Homo sapiens: one gene and its partners. The protein of the gene in region 5 interacts with the protein of the main gene of each other region in a biochemical or structural test. Each region holds a gene or a part of one and is shown on either strand. Other genes may lie near its edges.

Region 1 (3,500 bases), on a different chromosome or scaffold from region 5:
ATCATTCTGTCTTACTCCAAGTGAGTTTCTTCATCTCAACAACAGCTTTAGATGAGAAGAACACAATTACTCCCTTGATGGATGTAATCAATTAGCAGTGATTGGTATTTTCAGAAGTCATCACTCATGAGAACATAAGGTCAGCCAAACAGATAAGACTTAACTGTCACCTCTTAGAAAAGCATTTATTTAAAATGTTTCTTTAAAAAGAAAGTGTTCTTCCCAGTGAGAAAGGAGATTCCATGTCAAGATATTCTGAGGCTGAGTCTATCACTAGGCCAAGACTGAATGACTACAGGAAGAAAAAAAAGACAAAACTGTCAAATGAGTTCTTCTCTGAACAACTAGAGCTAACAGAGCTGAATCCAAAGACTATGTCTCCCTGTCCCTCTGTCAAGGTCCCTGAGTATGGACCAATAAAGGAAGGCACAGGAGGGTGGGAAGGCTTCCCAAGGAAATCAGGCTGCTCGGCCCATCCAGGGGTGGGCCCTGTCCCTTAGGGGATAGCTTCCAGATGTGTGGGGGCACCTGACAATACCTGTTCTGCTGCAAATACTTATTGAGGGGACCAAGTTCTGCCATCTCCATAACCAGCATCCAGGACTCGGCCTCGCATATCCCGATCATCCGCACGATGTACGGGTTGTCCAGCTGCTGCATGACATTTGCTTCTGCTAATAACTCATCTTTAAGAGCGGGGTCATTGGCCTCGTTTTTCAGTATTTTCACAGCCACGGTTTTCACAACTCTGCAAGAGAAATCATAACACACAAGAAACTTTCCAAAATGCCTCACTTCTAGATAATCTTATCCTGTGAAGCATAATCCCCCTGTGGAAACAGTCCCACGGAAATACCTGCCACAGAGTGGCAATGTGTCTTCAGAAGCCTGTAATGGATGGCTGGCCTTCCAACCTATATTCCCTTATTTTATAGACAATGAGAGTAATACTCCATTACTAAAAAAGAATGGTGGGGGCTGGGCATGGTGGCTCATGCTGACAATCCCCATACTTTGGGAGGTTGAAAGGGGAGGATTGCTTGAGGTCAGAAGTTCAAGGTCAGCCTGGGCAACATAGTGAGACCCCCATCTCTAAAAAAAATCACCCAGGTGTGACAGTGCAAGCCTGTAGTCCCAGCTGCTCGGGAGGCTGAGGTGGGAGAATCACTTGGACTCAGGAGTTCAAGGCTGCAGTGAGCTTCTTGCCACTTCACTCCAGCCTGGGTGACACAGTGAAACACTGTTTCTAAAAAATAATATAAAATAAAAAGAATGGTGAAGAACAGTACTGAAGAATGTCCCAACCAAGCAAAAACCCTAAACTGTAAAATATTTAAATAACTTGTAAATAAACTTCACCAACGATGACATGTACGAATTCCTGTAACATCTTGGGATTCACCATCTCAGATTACATGTAATGAATGTGAATATAAAATGCCTTTCATAATTGTTGAAAGTGAATTTCTAGGTGCAGAATTTAAAAGCATATATTTCAATGTAATACATTGAAAAGGTAAACAACTCTCCTGAGAGAGGCTGAAGAAGACCTGGTAAATGGAGAGATGGGCTGTGTTTATAGATTGAAAGACTCAGTATTGTAAAGACATCATTTTGCCCCAAATTGACCGAGAGAGCCTCTCCTCTCCCCAAATTCTCTAGTTGAAATTATGTCCACAGTCATGTCTATGTTAATTCACAAATTTAAGCACAGAATAAAGATCACAACCTTTCATAATCTGAAAAAGCTTAGGATTAATACAGAAACATTTTTACTCATTGTACAAAATGACTGTGATATACAAACATATATTTTAAAATAAGTATCACAGCCAATTTTGATTGTGTGTGTATATATGTGCGCATGTATATACTTGTGAATGTATACATATGTGTGTATGTTTGTGTGTGTATACATACATGTATGTGTATCTAATTTACACACACACACATGCACAAAAACAAATCGAAGGGACAGATTGGAAAGCAAGCATTTCTTTTTTCTTTCTTTCTTTTTTTTTTTTTTTTTTTGAGGCAGAGTTTCACTCTTGTTGCCCAGGCTGGAGTGCAATGGTGTGATCTTGGCTGGCTGCAACCTCTTCCTCCCAGGTTCAAGTGATTCTCCTGCCTCAGCCTCCTAAGTAGTTGGGACTACAGGTGTATGCCACCACACCCAGCTAATTTTTTGTATTTTTAGTGGAGACGAGGTTTTACCATGTTGGCCAGGATGGTCTTGAACTCCAGACCTCAGGTGATCCACCTACCTTGGCCTCCCAAAGTGCTGGGATTATAGGCATGAGCCACGGCACCCGGCCGGAAAGCACGCATGTCTGTGTATATTTTTGTCTATATTTTTAACCCTTGAATCATAAAAATTACCTACTCACGAATTTTTTTTTTACAAAAATCCCTTACATTTGAAATACCATGAAGCTACTAAATCTAACCACATTCATATTAGTATCATACCAATTCAAACAGAGGGTGTATTTCAAAGGACTTTAGAAACCAGTAGTTTTACTTGTACATTCTATGTTGGGTACCTTCTAAAGACCAAAAGAAATACAAAGATATTTTCGAAATTTAGCAATTTTAACTGTTGTATAATATGTATTGTTATCTGAAATCATAGGATAAAGCCAATAAATAATTATACTAATCATATTTGGAATCAATAATTTTCATGTAAGAAAAATGAGATGTAACTATAAAATTAAAGAAAATAAATGTAAAAACTATTGTTATAATGGAATGATTTTGTTTTAATTAAATAATATCTGTGTGTACAAATAAAGATCTAAAAATATATACAATAAGATTAAGTTAACAGTAGTAATGTTTAGTTAACAGTAGTAGTGTTGGGATGGTATTATACAAATATGATGTTCTTCTTTTCTTTTTTTTGTTTTGTTTTTTGAAACAGGGCCTTGCTTTGTTACCCAGGCTAGAGTGCAGTGGTGCAATCATGGCTCACTGCAGCCTTGGCTTCTTGGCCTCTTGAGCAGCTGGAAGTATATGTGTGCACTACTATGTCTGGCTAATTTTTTATGTTTTATTTATTTATTTATTTATTTATTTTTTTTGTAGAGACAGGGTCTTGCTATGTTGCCCAGGCTGGTCTCAAGCTCCAGGCCTCAAACAATCCTCCTATCCCAGCCTCCCAAATTGCTAAGATTACAGGCATGAGCCACCATGCCAATTTGATGTTTTTATTTTCTTATGTTTCTGCTTGTTTCTATTTCCTAATTTTCCATAAGGTGCATGTACTATTAGGTTGGTGCAAAAGTAATTGCAGTTTTTGCCATTAAAGGTAATGGACGCTTTCATTATAATAGTACCAGAAATTAACAAGAATGGTAGCATTAATAAAAAAAGGGTTTAGTCATGCCAGGTTACATTTTGTTATTCTCAGTCATGTCTAGAACCTGAGCTCATGTGAGGGTGAGGCTGGTGGAACATAGCAACTTACTTTTTCATTTGGTAGTAGCCCTTTTTCACAG
Region 2 (3,500 bases), on a different chromosome or scaffold from region 5:
TGGCCTTGGGTAAGCAATGTAACCTCTCTAATCTTCAATTTCCTCATCTGTAAAATGGGGATCATAAAAAAAAAAAGTAGGTGGTTTTGAGAACTGTATGAGTTAATAAACATAAATCTTTTAGCATAGTATCTGATATACAGGAAGCTCCTGTTAAATGTTAGCTTTTTCTGTTAACATGCTGCCTTGGATTTAATTCTTACAGAGTCATTTACTGCCACCAAAGTATAAGATACACCGGTAGTTTTGGGGAGATAGATAACTAAGATAGGATTCTTGCCCTTAAAGGGAAAAAATACGTATTGGAGCACAGACCTATAAACAACATACATGAAATAAAAATTAAGTGGAGAACAATGCCGCACACGGTGGGAATGCAATGGAATGAACAATGAAATCTAAAGGATCAGGAAAGGATCCCAGATGACCTGACATTTGACCTAGACCTGTAAACAAATAGGCATTCCACAGGGAGAAAATGGGAGAAGGTTCCCAGGTAGAGAGAACAGCGGGTGCAAAGAGACATGGTGACTCCACAGGTAATAAAGAAACGGAATTAATTAATTTTCAAGAAATTGCCCTCGGAAGTAGACTTACCGCTTCTGCACTGAACAGCAACAGCAGCAACAGAAAACCGACTGGATGGTGTTATCTGAAAAGCAGATCATTTCTCAGCTGTTAGAAAGCCATGAGTACGTGATATTGAGGGAGTCTCTAAGGGAAGGGTGAGACGAATTATTATAAAGCGTATGAAAGTCTCGATCGTGCCTTCCTTCACTAGTGGAAGACAAATAACTGTCACTAAAGCAAAAAATAAGTTTCTGGCACCTTGGCCAGTGTGGTTTCCCTTCTCAGGCTCTTCTCCTCTGGCCTGGTTTTTGCATTTCCTCAGTCTGTGAGTGATAAATGACCAGTGTATTCTCTTTTACCTTTGTCAGGGCTAATGTTCGCTAACAAATATACAAGAGAATAGGATTCCAGAAGTGATGCTCTCCTAGGAAATCTGTTAGCAGGGATTTTGAATTAGATCTGTCATATTTTTTTAAATTGAAATGTTTAAAACATAGGCTCTTTTTAAAAATTCCATCAACATTTCAGTGGGATTTTTATTCTTTTACGTATTTATTGTAATTAAAAATTGTTCTAAACCTTAGCTGCATGTTAGAATTATCTGAGGAGCTTTAAAAAAAATATTCTGGTGTACAGGTCATACCCTGCATACCCCAGACCAAAAAAATTAGACTGTCTGGGGAGGAATCTAGGTATTGGTATTTCTTTCTTTCTTTTTTTTTTTAATTTTACTTTAAGTTCTGGGATACATGTGCAGAACAAGCAGGTTTGTTACATAGATATATATGTGCCATGGTAGTTTGCTGCACCTATCAAACCATCATCTAGATTTTAAGCCCCGCATGCATTAGGTATTTGTCCTAATGCTCTCCCTCCCCTTGCCCTCCACCCCACAACAGGCCCTGGTGTGTGATGTTCCCCTCTCTGTGTCCATATATTCTCATTGTTCAACTCCCACTTATGAGTGAGAATATGCAGTGTTGGGCTTTCTGTTCCTGTGTTAGTTTGCTGAGAATGATGGCTTCCAGCTTCATCCATGTCCCTGCAAAGGACATGAACTCATTCGTTTTTATGGCTGCATAGTATTCCATAAAACATAGGCTCTTACTATGGAATAAGCTTAAAGATAAACTGAATATTTGAAGAAAGAACTAGCTAGTAAGTCTAGGTTATGCCTAGACTTTCATTGTCAAGCTTCATCTTTATTGAAGTGAGATGATTTTCCTTTTTAAAGACCATAAATAAGCCAAGGGTGGTGGCTCATGCCGCTAATCCCAGCACCTTGGGAGGCCGAAGCAGGCAGATCGCTTGAGCCCAGGAGTTCGAGATCAGCCTGGGCAACATGGCAGAACCCCATGTCTACCCCAAAAAACTTTTTAAAAAAATTAGCCAGGCATGGTGGTGCATGCCTGTAGTCTTCAATACTCAGGAGGCTGAGGTGGGAGGATCCCTTGAGCCTGGGAGATGGAGGCTGCAGTGAGCTGAGATTGCACCACTGCACTCCAGCCCTGGTGACAGAGTGAGACTCTGTCAAAAAAAAAACATAAATAAATTTTGAATTTCAAAAGGATATTTTATTTTCATAGAACCTACATTTCCCCATCAGCTCATACTCATATTGACATCCGAAAATATTCTGGAGGCAGCAGAGTACCTTAGAGGTGAGCATTCACTTTGAGGGGAGACAGACCTGGGGTTTAGCCCTAGTCACCTGGCTGACTACATCTTGGATAAGTCCCTTTACTTCTCTAAGTCTTAGTTTTTCTAACTGTAAAACTGAGGTAAATAGTATGTACTCCCTTTGAGAAGCCCTATAAATGTCTAACTTTGTGACTTTGAGTAAACTAGTAAATGTTCTGTGCTTTAGTTTCCTCGTCTGTAAAATGGGAATAATAGGATGCCTAACATGTAAGCCAACGGTGAGGACTAATTGAGTCGATTCATGTAAAACTCCTAGACCAATACCAGGTATACAGTAAGAGGGTAATCAAGAAGGCTGATTATAATAGGATCGTGGTGAAGAATCAATCAGATAACATCTTTTAAAGTCCCTGGATCATAAAGGTAAGTATTATCAGTCAGGATCCCAACAAGAATCAGAAGGCACACTCAAACTGGGATATGTTGAGAAGGATTTATTTATAAAAGGAAGTATAGAGATGTAGGCAGAGTGTAGTAAAACTACAAGGATAGTGCAGGAATCCAGAGCTGAGCCATCACCACACCTAACCAAGTGAGGAGGGAAGGGAAGGTTACCAGAACCTAGAAGGAGAGGGTATCTGTGGCCCAGGCCACCTGGAAAAGAGCATGTATCATCCATCCAAGGACACAGACTGCCCAAGGAGACTTCACAGCAAGAAAATCAGGAGGATAAATATCCTTACTCCACTGTCCTCCCTCCCTCCTTGCTGGGCTCTCCATTGGCCTAACCCAGCAGGAAGCCAGATGGTTGTATGTAAATCACACAGCAGCAAACAGCAGGCTGGTGAAAGGCAGAGAGTGGACCGGCAGGGAGAGAGGCAGACAGGAAACATCCAGCACAGTCCACCCCTCAGCATCCATTTTTTGTTTCTTTTTTTTCAGACAGAGTCTCACTGCGTCGGCCAGGCTGGAGTGCAGTGGTGCTATCTTGGTTCACTGCAACCTCCTCTACCTCCCAGGTTCAAGTGATTCTCCTGCCTCAGCCTCCTGAGTAGCTGGGATTACAGGCATGTGCCACCACACCCAGCTAATTTTTTGTAGTTTTTAGTAGAGATGGGATTTCACCATGTTGGCCAGCCTAGTCTCGGACTCCTGACCTCAAGTCATCCGCCCAACCTGGCCTCCCAAAGTGCTGGGATTACAGTTATGAGTCACCGCGCTCGGCCCATCCTAAAGTGGAAATCATATATGCCCTCTTCCATTATCCATTCCATTTCCCCTTTGCCACT
Region 3 (3,500 bases), on a different chromosome or scaffold from region 5:
TATGTTGGGCTTCTTTTCAAAACTTAAAAAAATTTATTATTATTATTCATTTATTTATTTACTTTAGACAAGGGGTCTTGTTCTGTCACCCAGGCTGGAGTGCAGTGGTGCAATCGTAGCTCACTGTGGCCTTGAACTCCTGGGCTCAAGTGATCCTCCTGCCTCAGCCTCCCAAGCACCTGGGATTATAGGCATGCACCACCATGCCCAGCTAGTTTTTATAATAATAATAATAATAAGAGGCTTGCTTGAGGTGATGGATAGCTCATTTATCCCTTTTGTGATTATTACACATTGTATGCCTCTATCAAAATATATCATGTACCCCATAAACATATATACTTACCAGATACCCATAAAAGTAAATAAATAAATAAGTAAATAAATAAATATACAAAATTAGCCGGGCGTGGTGGCACATGCCTGTAATCCCAGCTACTTGGGAGACTGAGGTAGGAGAATCGCTTGAACCTGGGAGGCAGAGGTTGCGGTGGGCCGAGATCGTGCCATTGCACTCCAGCTTGGGCAACAAGAGCAAAACTCCGTCTCAAAAAAAAAAAAAAAAGAAAAGAAAAGAAACAGGAGTCTAGGGCTGGGCACAGTGGCTCATTGCCTGTAATCCCAGCACTTTGGGAGGCTGAGGTCAGGAGTTCGAGACCAGCCTGGCCAACGTGGCAAAACTCTGTCTCTACTAAAAATACAAAACACAAAATACAAAAATTAGCCAGGCGTGGTGGTGCACGCCTGTAGTCCCACCTGCTTAGGGAGGCTGAGGGAGGAGAGACAGAGCTTGCAGTGAGCCCAGATCACACCACTGCACTCCAGCCTGGGCAACAGAGCAAGTCTAAAAAAAAAAAAAAAAGGAAAGAGAGAAAAGAAACAGGAGTCTAGGCTGGGCATGGTGGTTCACGCCTGTAATCCCAGCACTTTGGGAGGCTGAGGTGGGTGGATCACTTGAGGTCAGGAGTTCAAGACCACCCTGGCCAACATGGTGAAACCCCCATCTCTACTAAAATTACAAAAATTAGCTGGGCGTGGTGACACATGCCTGTAGTCCTAGCTAGTCAGGGGGCTGAGGCAGGAGAATCACTTGAACCTGGGAGGTGGAGGTTCCAGTGAGCCAAGTTCACACCACTGAACTCCAGCCTAGGTGACAGAGTGAGATTCTGTCTGTTTTTTTTTCTTTTGAGATGGTATCTTGCTCTGTCACCTAGGCTAGAGTGCAATGGCGTGGTCTCAGCTCACTGCAACCTCCACCTCCATGGTTCAAGCAATTCTCCTGCCTCAGCCTCCCAAGAAGCTGGGATTACAGGCGCGCACCACCACGCCCAGCTAATTTTTGTATTTTTAGTAGAGACAGGGTTTCACCATGTTGGCCAGGCTTGTCTCGAACTCCTGACCATGTGATTTGCCCTCCTCAGCCTCCCAAAGTGCTGGGATTACAGGCATGAGCCACCGCGCCCAGCCGAGACTCTATTAAAAAAAGAAAAAAGAAAGAAACAGGAGTCTAAAGCAAAGGAGATTAATTACCCAGTCCCATTCTTCCACCTTCCAAAGCAGGAGTTGGTAGGACAGAATTGTGCACTGGTGAAAGTGTTTCTAAGCACTAAACTAAGCTAACATTCATGTGAGCTTATGAGAAATGGATGAAGAGCCCCATTTGACAGAAGAGGAAAAGTGAGGCTTAGGAGGAATGATTTCAGCAAAGTCACACAGTAAGTGTCAAAATTGCTATTTGAACTTAGGTCTCTAACTATGGGGACAGTCTTCTGAGTTTTGCTAATGAGAAACTTCCACTGCTCCCTGCTTCCACTTAGACCCAGCATGAATTCTCTCTCTCTGTCTCTCTTTTGTTTTTTCTTTTTAGACAGAGTCTCTGTCACCCAAGTTGGAGTGAACAGTGCGGTGGCAGTGGCAGGATCTAGGCTCACTGCAACCTCCACCTCTTGAGTTCAAGCAATTCTCCAGCCACCATGCCCAGCTAACTTTTTTTTTTTTTTTTTTTTTGTATTTTTAGTAGAGACAGGGTTTCACCATTGTTGGCCAGGCTGGTTGTCTTGAACTTCTGACCCCAGGTGATCCACCCACCTTGGCCTCCCAAAGTGCTGGGATTACAAGCATGAGCCACCGTGCCCAGCCTGCTCTTTTGAGATGGAGTCTCGCTCTGTCATCCAGGCTGGAGTGCAGTGGCTTGATCTCGGCTCACTGCAACCTCTGCCTCCCGGGTTCAAGTGATTCTCCTGCCTCAGCCTCCTGAGTAGCTGGGATTACAGGCGTGTGCCACCATGCCTGGCTAATTTTTGTATTTTTAGTAGACACGGGGTTTCACCATGTTGGTCAGGCTGGTCTTGAACACCTGACCTCGTGATCCACCCGCCTCAGCCTCCCAAAGTGCTGGGATTACAGGAATGAGCCATCGTGCCCGGACTTTTTTTTTTTTTTTTTTTTTTTTTTGAGACGGACGGAATCTCACTCTGTTGCCAGGCTGGAGTGCAATGGCGCAATTCCGGCTCACTGCAACCTCTACCTCCTGGGTTTAAGCGATTCTCCTGCCTCAGCCTCCTGAGTAGCTGAGATTACAGGCACCTGCCACCAAGCCCGATTAATTTTTGGATTTTTAGTAGAGGCAGGGTTGCACCATGTTGGCCAGGATGGTCTCGATCCCTTAATCTTGTGACCCACCCGCCTTGGCCTCCCAAAGTGCTGGGATTACAGGTGTGAGCCACCGCGCCTGGCCTTTTTTTTTTTTTTTTTGAGACAGGCTCTCGCTCTGTTATCCAGGCTGGAGTGCAGTGGCACAATCGTAGCTCATTGCAGCCTTGAGCTCCTGGGCTCAAGTGATCTTTTTGCCTCAGCCTCCCAAGTAGCTGGAACTACAGGCATGCCCCATCACACCTGGCTAATTTTTTGATTTTTTTTCTAGAGATGAGGTCTCACTATGTTGCCCAGGCTAGTCTGGAACTTCTGAGTTTGAATGGTCTTACTGCCTCAGTCTCCCAAAGTGCCGCGATTACAGATGTGAGCCACCACGCCCGGCCAGCAACTCCAGCTTTGCTCTACTCCAAATAGGTTGTGTGACTTTAAGCATACCTCTGTGGGCCTCAGTTTGCTCATCTAAAATCAGAGGTTTAGCCAGGTATGGCAGCTCATGCCTGTAATCCCAGCACTTTGGGAGGCCAAGAAGGAAGGATCACTTGAAGCCAAGAATTTGAGACCAGTCCGGGCAACATAGCAATACCCCCATCTCTAGAACAAATAAAAAATCACCTGGGCTCAGTGGTGCCAGCTACCCAGGAGGCTGAAGTTAGAGGATCACTTGAGCCCAGGAGTTTGAGGTTCCAGTGAGTTAGGATTGGGTCATTGCACTGCAGTCTGGGCAAGAGAGTGACACTTTATCTCAAAAATAAATCAACAAATAATAAAATTGGAGATTAGGCTTGCTGGTTTCTAAGACCTTTGCAGATGGGAGACTCTATGCATTAACACTGCATGTTCCAGTT
Region 4 (3,424 bases), on a different chromosome or scaffold from region 5:
AGCTAGGCAAGGATGTAGGGAGAGATGGTAAACTGGAGGTGGCTGGCCTGGGGGGCCCAGGGGGAGAAGGGCTCAGAGGTTCCAGCAGAGAAGGGGCAACTTCTAAAAGGACCAGGGACTGGAGGGGCTGGGGCTGGTACCCTCAAGACCTTACCTTAGAGGTGCCCTTGGTGGAGTAATAGAGGCCAGATCGGCGCAAGAAGCAGAAAAAGCGTTTCCAAAGCTTCCGTCCTGAACCCCGCAGCTGCAGAAAGCCCTGGATCTCAGGAAAGCTGCCAGCATTCAGGAAGTTCTGAGCCAGAGGAGAGCAGAGGAGAGTGACAGGTCTGACCTCCTCCCTTCCCCTCTACCACCAGGATGTTTCTCTTTTTCTTTTTCTTTTTGAGACAGGGTCTCATGCTAGTGCGGTGGCACGATCACAGCTCACTGCAACCTCGACCTCCCGAGCTCAAGTGATCCTCCCACCTCAGCCTCCCAAGCACCTGGGACTACAGGCTCATGCCACCATTCCTGGCCTTTTTTTTTTTTTTTTTTTTTTTTTTGGAGAGACGAGGTCTCATTATGTTGCCCAGGCTGGTCTCAAACTCTCAAACTTCTAGGCTTAAGTAATCCTCCCGCCTCAGCCTCCCAAAGTGCTGGGATTATAGGCATGAGCCACCGTGCCCAGCCCACCCTCAGGTTTTTACAAGGAAATGCTCCACATGCATTTCTCGCCCCCATTTAATAGAAGAAACTGATGCTCAGGCAGGGAAAGTGACTGTCCCCAGTCACACAGGACTGTGATTTGGCTCTTTCTACAACATAGAGGGGAGGCACAGGACTTAAGGGTGGAGAAGCACTGGCCAATGCTGGGGAGTCGTGAATCTGCAGTGAAATGGGGGGTCCCCCCACCTGGATGAGGTCTTCATGGGATATACCAGTGTGTGCATCGAGACAGCTGGAGACCATTTTTTCTGGGAACAGGGAGTGCTGTGGGTAGACAAGTGTCAGGGATCAGGGCTCCAGCATCCAGGTTGAGGATCAGGGCATCCCAGCGCCCAGACAGCCCTCATGCACTCACTGGGGAGCTCTTGAACAGTTCGTACTTGGCGAAGTTTTTCCGGAAGACGAAGCGGCTATCTCCGCCCACGGGCCAGGCAGCCTGCACTTCCACCACGGACTCGTGGTCCTCCAAACCCCGCTCTGGGGACAAGGGCAAAAAGCAGGGGTTATTGGAGATCAACCAGATCTCCTGGATGAGCCACATGCCTAGCCCAAGATGCAAGGCATCATCTCCCAGCCCGGATAGTTCCATGCACCTGACTTACCCAGTGCTAGGTGGGGGTGGCACTCCACCAGCCCCCAGGTCTCGTCGCTCAAGGCGTGAGCTCGCTGCACCAGCATTTCACACACGTGGCGAGCTGTGGCACCTGCTGCCACCTCCACAGACCTGCAGGCCCCATCCTCACTGTACACCTTTACTACCTGCGCCCCAGGAATTGCACACGACTTGAGGGGAGGCAAAGGGTGATTCATTCCCTTTCCGCACCTGCTAGACCCTCAGGGACTCCTAACCAAGATCCCCTGCCTCCATGGAAGCGGCTGTGTATCTCCCACAGACCCAGAACCCGTGCATCCCTCCCTTCCCTTCTGAGGGACAACTCACATGGGGGCGGCTGGCATCGCGGGGGAGCAGCCCCCTTGCACTGGAGGGGCCCCCGAGAATTGGGCTCTGTGAGGGAGGACTGCAGAGCTCAGGGAAGGGGTTGGGGATAGAGGGGAGGGAGGTGGCACGCCTCTCCTCCTCTCGAAGTTTCCTGTGGCAAGAAGAAAAAGGGAGAGAGGTGTGGGGAAGGGAGCAGTGGCCTGCAAGCCTCTGTGTATTATCCAGCACTGACCTCCCCCAAGCCCCACGCCCCATCGTACCTGCCGGTGGTTGGGATGAGGAGAGGCTGGGACCTCTTTACCTCCTCAGGCAGAGGGGTATCAGGGGGCCGGGGAGTCCCAGGAGGGGTCCCAGGGGCTGGGCAAAGGTCTTCCGGAGAGCTGCTAAGATGAGGTGGAGACAGATCCAGCTCCATGGCGTCTGAGCAAGAGAGGGGCTTAACGGAACCAGTTGTGTGCCCTTGTCCTGGGGAGAGGGGATGAGAGAATTCAGACCTCCTGACCTCACACGGCGGTTAGGGTGCCCCTCAGAGTTTACCTAGCACCTCACTGCTCTAACTGGAGTTTCCCTGAAGCCCTTGGGGAAGGACAGAATGAGCCTCATTTTACAAAAGGGGACACCGAGTCTCTGAGAAGAAAGCATTCTTGCCCTCAGTCACAGGTGAGTCGGGAGTAGAACCTGTGTTTAGACTCCAAGTCCAGTGCTCTTTCTGTTTTTTTTCTCCTTTTTTTTTTTTTTTTTTGCAGCGGCGTCATCTCCACTCACTGCAACCTCCACCTCCTGGGTTCAAGTAATTCTCGTGCCTTAACCTCCCGAGTAACTGGGATTACAGGTGCCCACCACCACGCCCGTCTAATTTTTGTATTTTTAGTAGAGACAGGGTTTCACCATGTTGGCCAGGCTGGTCTTGAACTCCTGATCCGCCCGCCTTGGCCTCCCAAAGTGCTGGGATTACAGGCGTAAGCCACCACGCCCGGCTCCAGTGCTCTTTCTTTAGCACAAAGTTGCTCACAGGAAGAGCTGAGGGTCCACCCACCACAAGCCTGGTGGTCACAACAGATTTCACAACCCACAGACTCTCAGGCTCAGCCCTCAGGGTCAGGGCAAAGGCCCACTCCTTTGCCTCCACGTGTGGGGCACTCACTGCGCTGGGCTGTGCCCCGGGTTTTTCCAGCACTTTGTTGCCAGACCCAGTTGCCAGAGCCTGTTCATACTTGGCGAGGTTTGGCCTGCCCAAGTGATGAGTGATGCAGAGGGGAGAAGGAGGTGGGGAAGGATGGGAGTCAGAAAGGCAGGAGAGCGGGCTCCGCTGCAGTGCAAGGGGGAGAGCAGGGCCTGGGGTAGGGGTCCTGGCCCCAGCAGCCCCCAAACCTTGCGTACCCTCCCCAGGCCATCCTCCTGCCCAACTCTTTCCTGAAGCCCCAGTGCTAGAGCCACCTCCTCTGAGAAGCCTTCCTGGCCTTCCACATTCAGACTGAATGACTCTCTCTCAGCACTGTGCGGGGGCCGCATCATCCATTACTGTGCACCTGTCCTATCCACCCATTTGTCTGAGGGCACCTGGTACCCCCAGGCAAGGCCAATCTCACCCATGTCTTATCACTTATAGGGGCTGCACAGACACTCAAGACAAGTAAAGACAGGACAGCAGGCAAAGACGAGCACTAGAGGTGGAGGTGGGGCTGGCACCTTCTCCGCAGGAACCCAGCAGACCCCTTTGGCCGGGCTGAGACCTGGGAGAACCTGCAATCCCAGCCCCCAGCCTGTTCTCCAAACACT
Region 5 (3,500 bases):
AGCCGGGCATGATGGCACACACCTATAATTCCAGCTACTCAGGAGACTGAGGCAGGAGAATTGCTTGAACCCGGGAGGCAGAGGAGGCGGAGGTTGCAGTGAGCCAAGATTGCACCACTGCACTCTAGCCTGGGGAACAGAGTGAGACTTTGTCTTAAAAAAAAAAAAAAAGTATATGGGGAATTTTATACCATTCTTGCAACTTTAGTGTAGATCTAAAATTATGTCAAAATAAAAAATTAAAGGAAAAAAAAAAACAGGTGGTCATAGTGGGTTTTTTTTACACACACACACACATTTTAAATGCTGTCCTATAGACTAGAAAGTCCCTTTGTTCTTTTTGCTCCAAGGAGCAGAATGAGTGAAAACAGCTAAAAGTCATGGGGAGACAGAATTTTCTTTTCTTTTCTTTTTTTTTTTTGAGAAAGAGTCTCGCTCTGTCGCCAGGCTGGAGTGCGGTGGTGTAATCTCGGTTCACTGCAATTTCCGCCTCCTGGGTTCAAGTGATTCTCGTGCCTCAGCCTCCTGAGTAGCTGGGATTACAGGCATGTGCACCACCACACCCAGCTAATTTTTGTGTTTTTAGTAGAGATGGCATTTCACCATGTTAGCCAGGATGGTCTCGATCTGACCTCGTAATCCGCCCACCTCGGCCTCCCAAAGTGCTGGGATTATAGGCATGAGCCACCGGGCCCAGCCTGGAGACAGATTTTTATCCAAATCTAAGGAAGAACTTTTACAAAACTTTAAGAAGGAGGTTGGGTGCTGTGATCCCTAGCACTTTGGGAGGCCAAGATGGGAGGATTGCTTGAGCACAGGAGTTCGAGATCAGCCTGGGCAACATAGCAAGACCCTGTCTCTACAAAAAAATACAAAAAAATTAGTCAAGTATGATGGTGTGTGCCTATAGTCCCAGCTACTTGGGATCACTTGAGCCCAGGAGGTCGAGGCTACAGTGAGTCGAGATCACGCCACTGCACTCCAGCCTAGGTGACAGAGCAAGACCCTATCTCAAAAAAGAAAAAAGAATAAAAAAGAAAACTTTAAGAAGGAGGATATGTTGTTCCTGTCCCTTGTTCCTTGGCAGGGCGATATTGAATTGCTCAAAGATGTTCCTGAGGGGACCGAAGGCCTGGATGGAGGATGTGTTAAGCATTCTTTCAGGTCCTTTGTAACAGGCTAGAATTTTATGACTTTGATTCCTAGTCAGCTCCACATAGGAAAGTTTTGGCCAATGAAATGAACTGTGAGGGGTGCGTGGGCTGGGGTCTAAGGAGGGAAGGCAGGATCTCTAACCCATTGAGGCCGGTGATCAGAAAGTCCAGGTTGCCCAGGATCTTGGTGCAGTTCACAAATCCATCAATGTTGCTCGAGTCCACAGTCTGGAAGCGGCTCCCAGAGCCTGTTCCCTCACAGGCTGCAAATGTAAGAGAGGTTCAGTGGGGGTGGTCTGCGCAGGCTCAGAGGAAAGGCTGTCTCTTTACAACTTCTTACCATCTCCTACCCACCTTTGGGACATAGTCCCCCACAAGGCTCACACATCTTGAGCCCATTTTTATCTACTTCCATCTTGTCAGGAGGACAGGCCCTGACACAGGATGTTTGATCCACCACAAAGTTATCTAGGGAAGAGGAGGAGGACACCATTAGAGATGAGGGAGGAACATCACCAGCTACCAATGGAACCCTTGCTCTGGGCCTAGGCTCCCTCCAGCTCTGCACTGGATTTGTCCCCATCTGCCACCCTAGATCCCTTAAGTGCTGCCCTATAGATTCAAAAGTCTCTTCACTATTTGTTGCTACAAGGAGCAGAAGTAAGGGTGATAGCTGAAGTCATGGGAGGACTGGACGTAAGGGTCACTCACTGGAGTGGTTAGATGATCATAACCATTCACCAATCTCCCTATTTATCACCAACTGGATTCTTTTTCCCTTCCACAATTTTGTCTAAAATCTTGGATCTACTATTGTTGATCATTGTTCCTTCCCCTCAGACACTTACGGGGACAGCTGGCTACACAAACTCCTCCATACTGATACTTGGTGTGGGGATTGGGTTCCAGCTGGAAAGTTAGCTTGTTGTAGACAAGAGGCTGTGGACAGCGAGGTACACAGGCTCCACTGTCATTGAAGTGCCGGCAGGCCTGGGAAAAAAGGAGGCTCATCAGATTTATGTTACGTGTGTACCCCTACCTCCTCCTCAAAGGCCACATCCCAATTTCAGAACCCAGGCAATGGAAAGGGTACATACAAAGCAGTCTGTGTCCTGAGGGCCTGAGCAGCCCCCGGCACACTCATCATGGCAGCACTGGTTGGGGTTGGGCCCAAAGCAGTGACCATTACACTGAGGAGCACAGATGGTCTTGGTCACTATGGAAGGAGAGAAAGCATGGCTGTTAGGGCTCCTAGGACTGAATTCTGAGGCCACTGCTCATGCCTCCCCCACAGTGTTGACCCAGGCTTGGGGAGGAAGGGATATGAAAGCGTATGAGTGAAGTTTTTGGAGGGAATTTCAAACCCACATGTCTGGCAGTCTTCTGATCCAGGACCCCAGCATCGCCCCTTGCAAACCTCATGACAGGGGGGACCTGGTTGGGAAGGAAGGCAACACAAGGGGCCATCAGGGCTAAGAAAGGCTTGTTTTAATCAACGGGGTATGATGTCAGTACACAGGCACCTCAATCCCGGGAAGCAAAAAGCCAGGGCTGTGTCCCTCCCTGCCCTTGGAGAGCAGGGCTGGGCTCAAGTGGACCTGTCAACAAGGGGCGCGGCCACGCCTCCACACCACCCACTGGGCAGCTGAAGGGGAGGGACTGGGGCAAATGCCAACCTTAGTCCTAGTCCCAACCCAGGAACTTAGTTCCTCCTGGGCAAACTGAATATATGCAGGAATATATGCATGTGAATGGTCAGGGGAAGGTGGGCTCCAAGGAAATGGGAGTATATTCTAGTGGAACGAGTAACAGATGTGGAGTCTAAAGATCTGGCTTCCCTGCTTAGTACTCAGGGATTTTTTTTTTTTTTTTTTGAGACAGGGTCTCACTCTGTTGCCCAGGCTAGAGTACAATGGCACAATCACAGCTCACTGCAGCTGCAGCCTCCTGGGCTCAAGCAATCCTCTGCCTCAGCCTCCTGAGTAGCCGGGATTACAGGTGCGAGCCACTACGCCTGTCTGATTTTTTTAATTTTTTGTAGATTTTTTGCTATGTTACTCAGGCTGGTCTTGGACTCCTGGGCTCAAGCGATCCTCCCACCTTGGCTTCCCAAAGTGCCAGGATTATAGGCATGAGCCACCATGCTCGGCCTGCTCCTTTTCTTGAAACACCTCCTCTGTGGTTTAGATTCCAGGAGACTGGAATGGTCTGCCCTGGTGGGCTGCTGAGTCAGGGACCTGAGGTGTTTGTTCACTGGGGAGGCGGGTTCAGATCAGGAATGTAAGGATGATGGAAAGAAGGGAGTCACTCTGGTTTGGTGGGACTGGGGAGCAATCTTGATCACGG
Region 6 (3,500 bases), about 55 Mb from region 5:
GAGTTCAAGACCAGCCTGGCCAACATGGTGAAACCCCATCTCTACTAAAAATACAAAAATTGAGGCCAGGTGAGGTAGCTCACGCCTGTAATCCCAGTACTTTGGGAGGCTGAGGCAGGTGGATCACGAGGTCAGGAGTTCAAGACCAGCCTGGCCAACATGGCGAAAACCCATCTCTACTAAAAATACAAAAAATTAGCCAGGCGTGGTAGCATGCGCCTGTAATCCCAGCTACTCGGGAGGCTGAGGCAGGAGAATCACTTGAACCCAGGAGGCAGAGGTTGCAGTGAGCCGAGATTGCGCCACTGCACTCCAGCCTGGGCAACAGAGTGAGACTCCATCTCAAGAAAAAAAAAAAACAAAACTGCTTTTCATGAAAAGCCAGGCCATAAAGGTAGGAAATGACTTTTAAAACGCAAAGAAATTGTCCAAAATATATAACGACTTTTACAAATCAATTTAAAAAAGGCTAGACAGACAATAAAAACATGTACTTCACAAACGACCAAATTCCGATGACCAATCAACATATGAAAAGGTGCTTAACCTCCATGAGTCATCAGGGAAACGCAAAGTAAAGCCACCTTGAGATCCAGGAACGCAGCCACCGGTGACTCTTAACACCAAGTGCCTGGCTAACATGGTGAAACCCCATTTCTACTAAAAATACAAAAATCAGCTGGGTGTGGTGGCACGCGCCTATAATCCCAGCTATTTGGGAGGCTAAGGCAGGAGAATCAGCTTGAACCCAGGAGACGGAGGTTGCAGTGAGCCGAGATTGTGCCTCTGCACTCCAGCCTGGGCAACAGAGCGAGACTCCGTCTCAAAACAAAAACAAAACAAAACACAAAAAAACCCACCAAGTGCTCAAGTGTTGGTGGGGAAGTGGAACCACCCGGAACTCTCGCCCACTGCCGGTGGGACACAAAATGGTGCAGCTGCTTTGGGAAAAGTCTGGCAATTTCTCTAAAGTAAACATGTACCTACTCTATGACTGAGCAATGCCACTTCTAGGAATCCACCTGAGAGAAATGAAAGGATGTGTGTCCATATTTAGACTTAGATGCAAACTTCATAACAGCCTTATTCATAAATCAAAATAGAAACAACCCAAATATTCATCAACAGAGGATGGGATAAACCAGTTGTGGGACATGGAGACAGCTGTGCAATGGAATCTATTCAGTACTCAAAAGAAACAAACCCGGCTGGGCGTGGTGGCTCATGCCAGTAATCATAGCACTTTGGGAGGCCGAAGTGGGGGGACCATTTGAGCCCAGGAGTTCGAGACCAGCCTTGACAACATGGTGAAATCCCATCTCCACAAAAAATACAAAAATTAGCCAGGTGTGGTGGCACGTGCCTGTGGTCCCAGTTACTCGGGAGGCTGAGGTGGGAGGACTGCTTGAGCCCAGGAGGACAAGAGGCAGAGGATGCAGTAAGCTGAGATCGAGCCACTGCACTCCAGCTGGGTGACAGAGCGAGACCTTGTCTCAAAAAAAAAAAAAAAAAAAAAAAAAAGGAAGACACTATTGACATGTACGATCAATGTGATCAATCTCTAAAACATTATGCTGGGCAAAAGGAGCCAGAAATAAAAGGCAACCTATTTATTAGCTGGGAGTGGTGGCACGTGACGGTGATCCCAGCTACTGGGGAGGCTGAGGCACAAAAATAACCTGAGGCTGGGAGGTTGAGGCTACAGCGAGCCATGATCACACCACTGCACTCCAGCCTAGGTGACACAGTGAGACCCTGTCTCAAAATAAAATAATAAAATAAAACAAAGGCAACCTACTGTGTGATTCCATTCACATGATGTTCAAGAACAGAGAAATCGAACCTGTGGTGATAAGAGGTGGTATGTATGGGGGTACAGGGCACTGGCCTGGGGGAGGCATGAAGGAGCCCTCTGGGGTGCTGGTCACTTGCGTTGCACACACACGGAAACACAGAGCTTCAGATGTGTCTCATACTTCACGCACTTCCAGGTCTGCATGTTACGCCACAGTCAGTTTGAAAACGTTACTTCAAAGGATTCTTGGATGACTCTCCCAAACCGCCAAACCGGGACCCCTCAGTTATCCTCCCAGAGACCCCATTGCTTTTCCTTTAGAACACAGTTTACCAGTTTTAGAACACAATTTACCATTTTTAATTCCATGCTCATCTGTGGGTTTATTTCCTCAACAGCCTCCACTAGGCCCGCCTGGTCCCCCAGAACCTAGCATGTGCCTAACACATAGTAGGTGCTCCATAAATATCTGTCGAATGAATGAAAGAGTAACCATAGGTTTCCTCCACCCACATCGTGAGCCCCTCAGGGCCAGTATCACATCGGTTTTGCTCATGCTCTAGAGTAAGGCCCTACCACGTAACAGGATCCCAAAGAGAGAGCAATTAGATGAAAGCCATATGGTCCTGTCATGCATACCTGAGTCAAAGATGGAGCCTGGCAGGTGAGTAGAACACAGTGACCTTTCAGCCTCAACAGCACAGTAGGAATTAAGCCAGCTGTGAAGGAAAAGAACTTTTTTTTTTTTTTTTTTTTTTTTGAGACAGGGTCTCGCTCTGTCACCCAGGCTGTAGTGCTGTGGTGCGATCTTGGCTTACTGCAGCCTTGGTCTTCTGGGCTCAAGCGATCTTCCCACCATAGCCTCCAGAGTAGCTGGGACCACAGGCGTACACCACCACGCCCAGCTAATTTTGGTATTTTTTGTAGCAATGGGGTTTTGCCAAAGGACAAATTCTTTTTAACTTGCAAAATATCACCAAGGCACAGGAGGTGCAGAGAAATTCTCTGAAGGTTTTGAGCCCTCTGGAAATAAAACACCAATCTGTCAATGCCAGTCTGAGTCAGAGTTTTCAAGGATCTCAGAGTGACCTGCTACCAGCCCACATGACACCCAAATGTGAAGGCAAAAAGGTGTCCCTGGACATTGTACAAAATCCTTGACTGGTACTCCTCAAAACTGCCAAGGCTATCAGCAATAGAGGGTTGGAAACTGTTACAGCCAAGAGGCGCCTAAGGAGACGTAACGACTAAACCTCATGTGGTATCCTGGGGGGCGAGCTGGAACAGAAAAGGGACATTAGAGGAAAACTGGCAAAGCCAAAGGAACAGTGGCGTTTAGCTAATAGTGATGTACCCGTGCTGGTTCCTTAGCTACAACCAATGTACACAGCAGCGTAAGATGTGAACCTTCGGTGAAGCTGGGTACCATGTGTAAAGGAACACTACTATCTTTGCAACTTTCCTGTAAGTCTAAACATTTTTTTTTTTTTTGAGACAGAGTCTCACTCTGTCACCAAGGCTGGAATACAGTGGTGCAATCTTAGTTCACTGTAACTTTCCCTCCCAGGTTCAAGTGATTCTCCTGACTCAGCCTCCCAAGTAGCCGGGATTACAGGCGTGCGCCACTGTGCTCAGCTAATTTTTTATATTTTTAGTAGAGACAGGGTTTCACTATGTTGGCCAGACTGGTCTTGAACCCCTGGCC
Region 7 (3,500 bases), on a different chromosome or scaffold from region 5:
CTCACTCTGTTGCCCAGGCCGAAGCACAGTGCTGCAATCATAGCTCAATGCAGTATTGAACTCCTGGGCTCAAGGAATCCTCCTGCCTTAGCCACCTTAGTAGTAGTACAAGCACATGCCATCATATCGGGCTAATTTTTTAACTTTTTTGTAGAGTGCCGTCTCGTTATGTTACCCAGGCTGCTCTCAAACTTCTAGGCTCAAGTGATCCTCTCGTTTCAGCCTCCCAAAATACTGTGATTACAGGCATGAGCCACTGCACCCAGCCCACATTTTTTAATGACTCACTTTCTCCAATAAATCAGAGTAGATTCAAGTTTATACCCATAATGATGTCACTCTCAATCATCTGCATTCTAATATGCTTTCTTGAATAGGAGAGAGACTGAATTAGAGCTCGCATGCTAGAAAACTGCACAGTGGAATATGTCATACATGTAAATATCTTGTACCTGGACGGGAAAAAATATAAGAAAACTGACTTGGATCACAAAAATCTGTTTTACTGCTGGATGAGACCATATGGACTCTAGTTCAACTGCTAAGTCAGTTCAGTGCTTGCTTCTCTACACAGAATAACCATAGGCTGGTCTGCCCATTTAAACTGTATGTTCTTTAAGAATTAGAACCCTGTATTTACAGAACACACAATCTGAAACAGGGATATCTGTAAAATACTGCTCCTTAAAAAATAATCATACGTTTCAGTAGGAGGTGGAAAAGACACAACTAATATACAAATAAGGGTATTATTAAATTTAAAAATGAAGTTTAAATTTTAAACAGATTGAGAAAATGTGTTTGCGGGGGCACTAGTTAGAGATTTAAGACAGTAACGTGTAGCTAATACCTGTGGTTTAAATGAAAGGAATTTAGGGCAACCATCCAAAAACACATGATCATCTAGGCAAAAAGAAAAATAAATCAGGAATCCAGACAAACTGGAGATATTTTGGAGTTAAAAATCATTTAAAGTAAATTTATAATTATCCCTGCTGAGATACAATAAGCTAAGATTTATAAAAAGAACAGCTAATCTGAGATATTTCTAACTATTTATTTGTATAAATGCAAATGTCATTCAACTTAAGTAAATTTATTGTAAATTTAAATTTAAGTAAATTTAATTATATTTTAATTTCTTATGTCTGAAACAAGGACTTTGTGGATGGTATAATAAACACATTAATACAAGGAGAGATAAAATCAATGTTATCACATAAAGAACTGAATACAGAAGCTGAATACTTCCTAAAGTCAGTTTAATACTTCCTAAATCTTACCTACATTGTCTCATTTCTTCTATGTAACAAGCTAGTGAAGCAATTTTACTATCCCTATTGAATAGATGAGAAAATTATGACTTAAAGAGATAAAATAACTTGTCCAAGATCCCACAGAACAGAAACTGGAACTAAAACCCGATTATCTGACTCTAAAATAAATGGCTCCTCTTTTCACTACACTTTGAAACCTAGCAAGGAAAACCTACATAAAATGTCCAGTCTTTTAATACCTACTAAAAAAAGTGACAATATCAAGTTTATAATGAATGGTGATGATGAATAAAAATTAGTAATTGTCTGATATGAATATTTTTAAAATAATTCCAAACATGCATGACATTAAATTTTTAAAGCTGAATTATGTAATATCCTCCAAAAATGAAGAAATCTGAACTATTTCTTGAAAAGAACCAAGAAAACTTTGTTTTACCTAGATACTTTGAATTCCAAAGAAAAAATATGGCCTCATATTTTGTCAGCCATACAGCAGTTTTATATGGTAAACTAAAATATTTATACTTACAGAATAAGAAACAGTAACTGCTTGGGTCTAATTCCTCTGTTCTGACTCTAATCTGTCCTCTATTTATTCTTTTCCATTTTTCCCCCAGATCTAGGAGCCCTCTTCTAATTTAAGGTAACAGCCTCAAGTTCAGGAACTCTTACAAATTTTGATGTGAATGCAGATACACTGAAATGAAAACCATAAAATCTCAATAATTGGTAGAGTGTTACAGAAGAAATCAAAGTTTGTTAGTTTTCAAATCATTATGGTAGAATGATGAGTGACTTCATTTTCTTCTCTATAGTTTTCTGAATTGATTGTAAGGCATTTAACATTTATAATCAAACAAAAATAAGAAAGAAAAGGAGTAAAAAAAGGGAAGGAGGAAGGGAGGGAAGGGAAAATTGGAGCCTTGATTTTAAAAAATCCAATTGTTTCTGAGTTCACTGAATCTACAACTAAAGTTCTAAAACTGTGACCTAATTGTTTCCTTCAGTCTCTCAATAGCATGATAGGTTAACCATACATAAGCATACCAAAGACAAATGAAATTTGGAAAAATAGTAATAAAGCAATCCAGAGATCTATAAATTCTGAGACATAGCCCTTAATATTTAAGAAATTACTATATGAACGAGGTAAGTATGAAAAACAGATTTAGGGTATGCAAAAACTAAAAAGCAAGATTCAAATACTTAAAAAGGTGTACACAAATTTCTCGGGTATAGAAAAATTACAAATATACAAATGTGTGAATTTATACCCATTTCCACTTATTCCTTTACTATAAATTGAAGTTTTATATCAAAATATTCCTCAGAACCATGAGACAACACCCAAGATCGTTGAGTCCTATCGAAATACTGACTTAAATTTCTCTAATTACGTCAGTCTCCATGAAGCAGTTCTACTAAAAAAAGTTCACCTTTGTAAGCTTTTTCCATTACAAAAATACATTCTTATTCCAAATGAACAGACATAAGATTGACCCAATTTATCAAGTTACCAAAATTTTACATAATTGATAGTCCCTTGGACTTCCCTCCAAAAGATGTTTATTTATAAATCAAGTACAAAACTATAATCTATTTACACAGGAGTCCAATTTTGAAGCAAAACGTTTTTTTGTATAACAAGTTCATCAGATTTCCTTTTGTCTGATTACCAAAATGCAGTTTACTTATTTGGGCCTTGATTACAAAGATGATGACTTCCTACCTCACTCACAAGATTGCTTTGAATAGTCTCATGTAATTAAGTTAGTATAGTTTTAGTAAGTACAATTCCCACTCACAAACAAAAATAAGCACCTTATAATTTGGTGGTGTGTATATACATGTATACTACATATACATGTATATACATATGCTGGGCTTTTTGTGGTTTTTTTGTTTGTTTGTTTTTTGTTTTTCTGAGATGGAGTTTCGGTCTTGTTACCTAGGCTGGAGTGCAATGGTGTGATCTCCACTCACCACAACCTCCGCCTCACGGGTTCAAGCGGTTCTCCTGCCTCAGCCTCCCGAGTAGCTGGGATTACAGGCATGCACCACCATGCCCGGCTAATTTTGTATTTTTATTAGAGACCATGTTTCTCCATTTTGGTCAGGCTGGTCTCGAACTCCCGACCTCAGGTGATCCGCCCGCCTCGGCCTCCCAAAGTGCTGGGATTACAGGCATGAGCCACCGCGCCCGGCCACATACGCTGGTTT

Evidence for each region.
Region 1: the proteins of ERBB3 (region 5) and SYK form a complex in vitro, tested with the Homo sapiens proteins (2 studies listed by BioGRID and IntAct, with this or other methods).
Region 2: the proteins of ERBB3 (region 5) and TXK form a complex in vitro, tested with the Homo sapiens proteins (2 studies listed by BioGRID and IntAct, with this or other methods).
Region 3: the proteins of ERBB3 (region 5) and LCK form a complex in vitro, tested with the Homo sapiens proteins (one large-scale study listed by BioGRID).
Region 4: the proteins of ERBB3 (region 5) and GRB7 form a complex in vitro, tested with the Homo sapiens proteins (2 studies listed by BioGRID and IntAct, with this or other methods).
Region 6: the proteins of ERBB3 (region 5) and SH2B3 form a complex in vitro, tested with the Homo sapiens proteins (2 studies listed by BioGRID and IntAct, with this or other methods).
Region 7: the proteins of ERBB3 (region 5) and FER form a complex in vitro, tested with the Homo sapiens proteins (2 studies listed by BioGRID and IntAct, with this or other methods).

The regions. Positions count from the first base shown.
Region 1 is NC_000009.12:90,874,819-90,878,318, reverse strand, and holds part of SYK (tyrosine-protein kinase SYK), read right to left. Parts: coding exon 3,470-3,500; intron 749-3,469; coding exon 539-748; intron 1-538. UniProt on the Homo sapiens protein: Non-receptor tyrosine kinase which mediates signal transduction downstream of a variety of transmembrane receptors including classical immunoreceptors like the B-cell receptor (BCR).
Region 2 is NC_000004.12:48,113,751-48,117,250, forward strand, and holds part of TXK (tyrosine-protein kinase TXK), read right to left. Parts: intron 653-3,500; coding exon 598-652; intron 591-597; exon of another isoform or gene 1-590. UniProt on the Homo sapiens protein: Non-receptor tyrosine kinase that plays a redundant role with ITK in regulation of the adaptive immune response. Regulates the development, function and differentiation of conventional T-cells and nonconventional NKT-cells.
Region 3 is NC_000001.11:32,268,265-32,271,764, forward strand, and holds part of LCK (tyrosine-protein kinase Lck), read left to right. Parts: intron 1-3,500. UniProt on the Homo sapiens protein: Non-receptor tyrosine-protein kinase that plays an essential role in the selection and maturation of developing T-cells in the thymus and in the function of mature T-cells. Plays a key role in T-cell antigen receptor (TCR)-linked signal transduction pathways.
Region 4 is NC_000017.11:39,740,938-39,744,361, reverse strand, and holds part of GRB7 (growth factor receptor-bound protein 7), read right to left. Parts: intron 2,111-3,424; coding exon of another isoform or gene 2,061-2,110; coding exon 1,906-2,060; intron 1,797-1,905; coding exon 1,646-1,796; intron 1,465-1,645; coding exon 1,308-1,464; intron 1,183-1,307; coding exon 1,061-1,182; intron 970-1,060; coding exon 892-969; intron 293-891; coding exon 155-292; intron 1-154. UniProt on the Homo sapiens protein: Adapter protein that interacts with the cytoplasmic domain of numerous receptor kinases and modulates down-stream signaling. Promotes activation of down-stream protein kinases, including STAT3, AKT1, MAPK1 and/or MAPK3. Promotes activation of HRAS.
Region 5 is NC_000012.12:56,086,665-56,090,164, reverse strand, and holds part of ERBB3 (receptor tyrosine-protein kinase erbB-3 isoform 1 precursor), read right to left. Parts: intron 2,589-3,500; coding exon 2,523-2,588; intron 2,371-2,522; coding exon 2,252-2,370; intron 2,145-2,251; coding exon 2,003-2,144; intron 1,623-2,002; coding exon 1,509-1,622; intron 1,418-1,508; coding exon 1,297-1,417; intron 1-1,296. UniProt on the Homo sapiens protein: Tyrosine-protein kinase that plays an essential role as cell surface receptor for neuregulins.
Region 6 is NC_000012.12:111,419,423-111,422,922, reverse strand, and holds part of SH2B3 (SH2B adapter protein 3), read right to left. Parts: intron 2,515-3,500; exon of another isoform or gene 2,435-2,514; intron 1-2,434. UniProt on the Homo sapiens protein: Links T-cell receptor activation signal to phospholipase C-gamma-1, GRB2 and phosphatidylinositol 3-kinase.
Region 7 is NC_000005.10:108,750,897-108,754,396, reverse strand, and holds part of FER (tyrosine-protein kinase Fer), read right to left. Parts: intron 1-3,500. UniProt on the Homo sapiens protein: Tyrosine-protein kinase that acts downstream of cell surface receptors for growth factors and plays a role in the regulation of the actin cytoskeleton, microtubule assembly, lamellipodia formation, cell adhesion, cell migration and chemotaxis.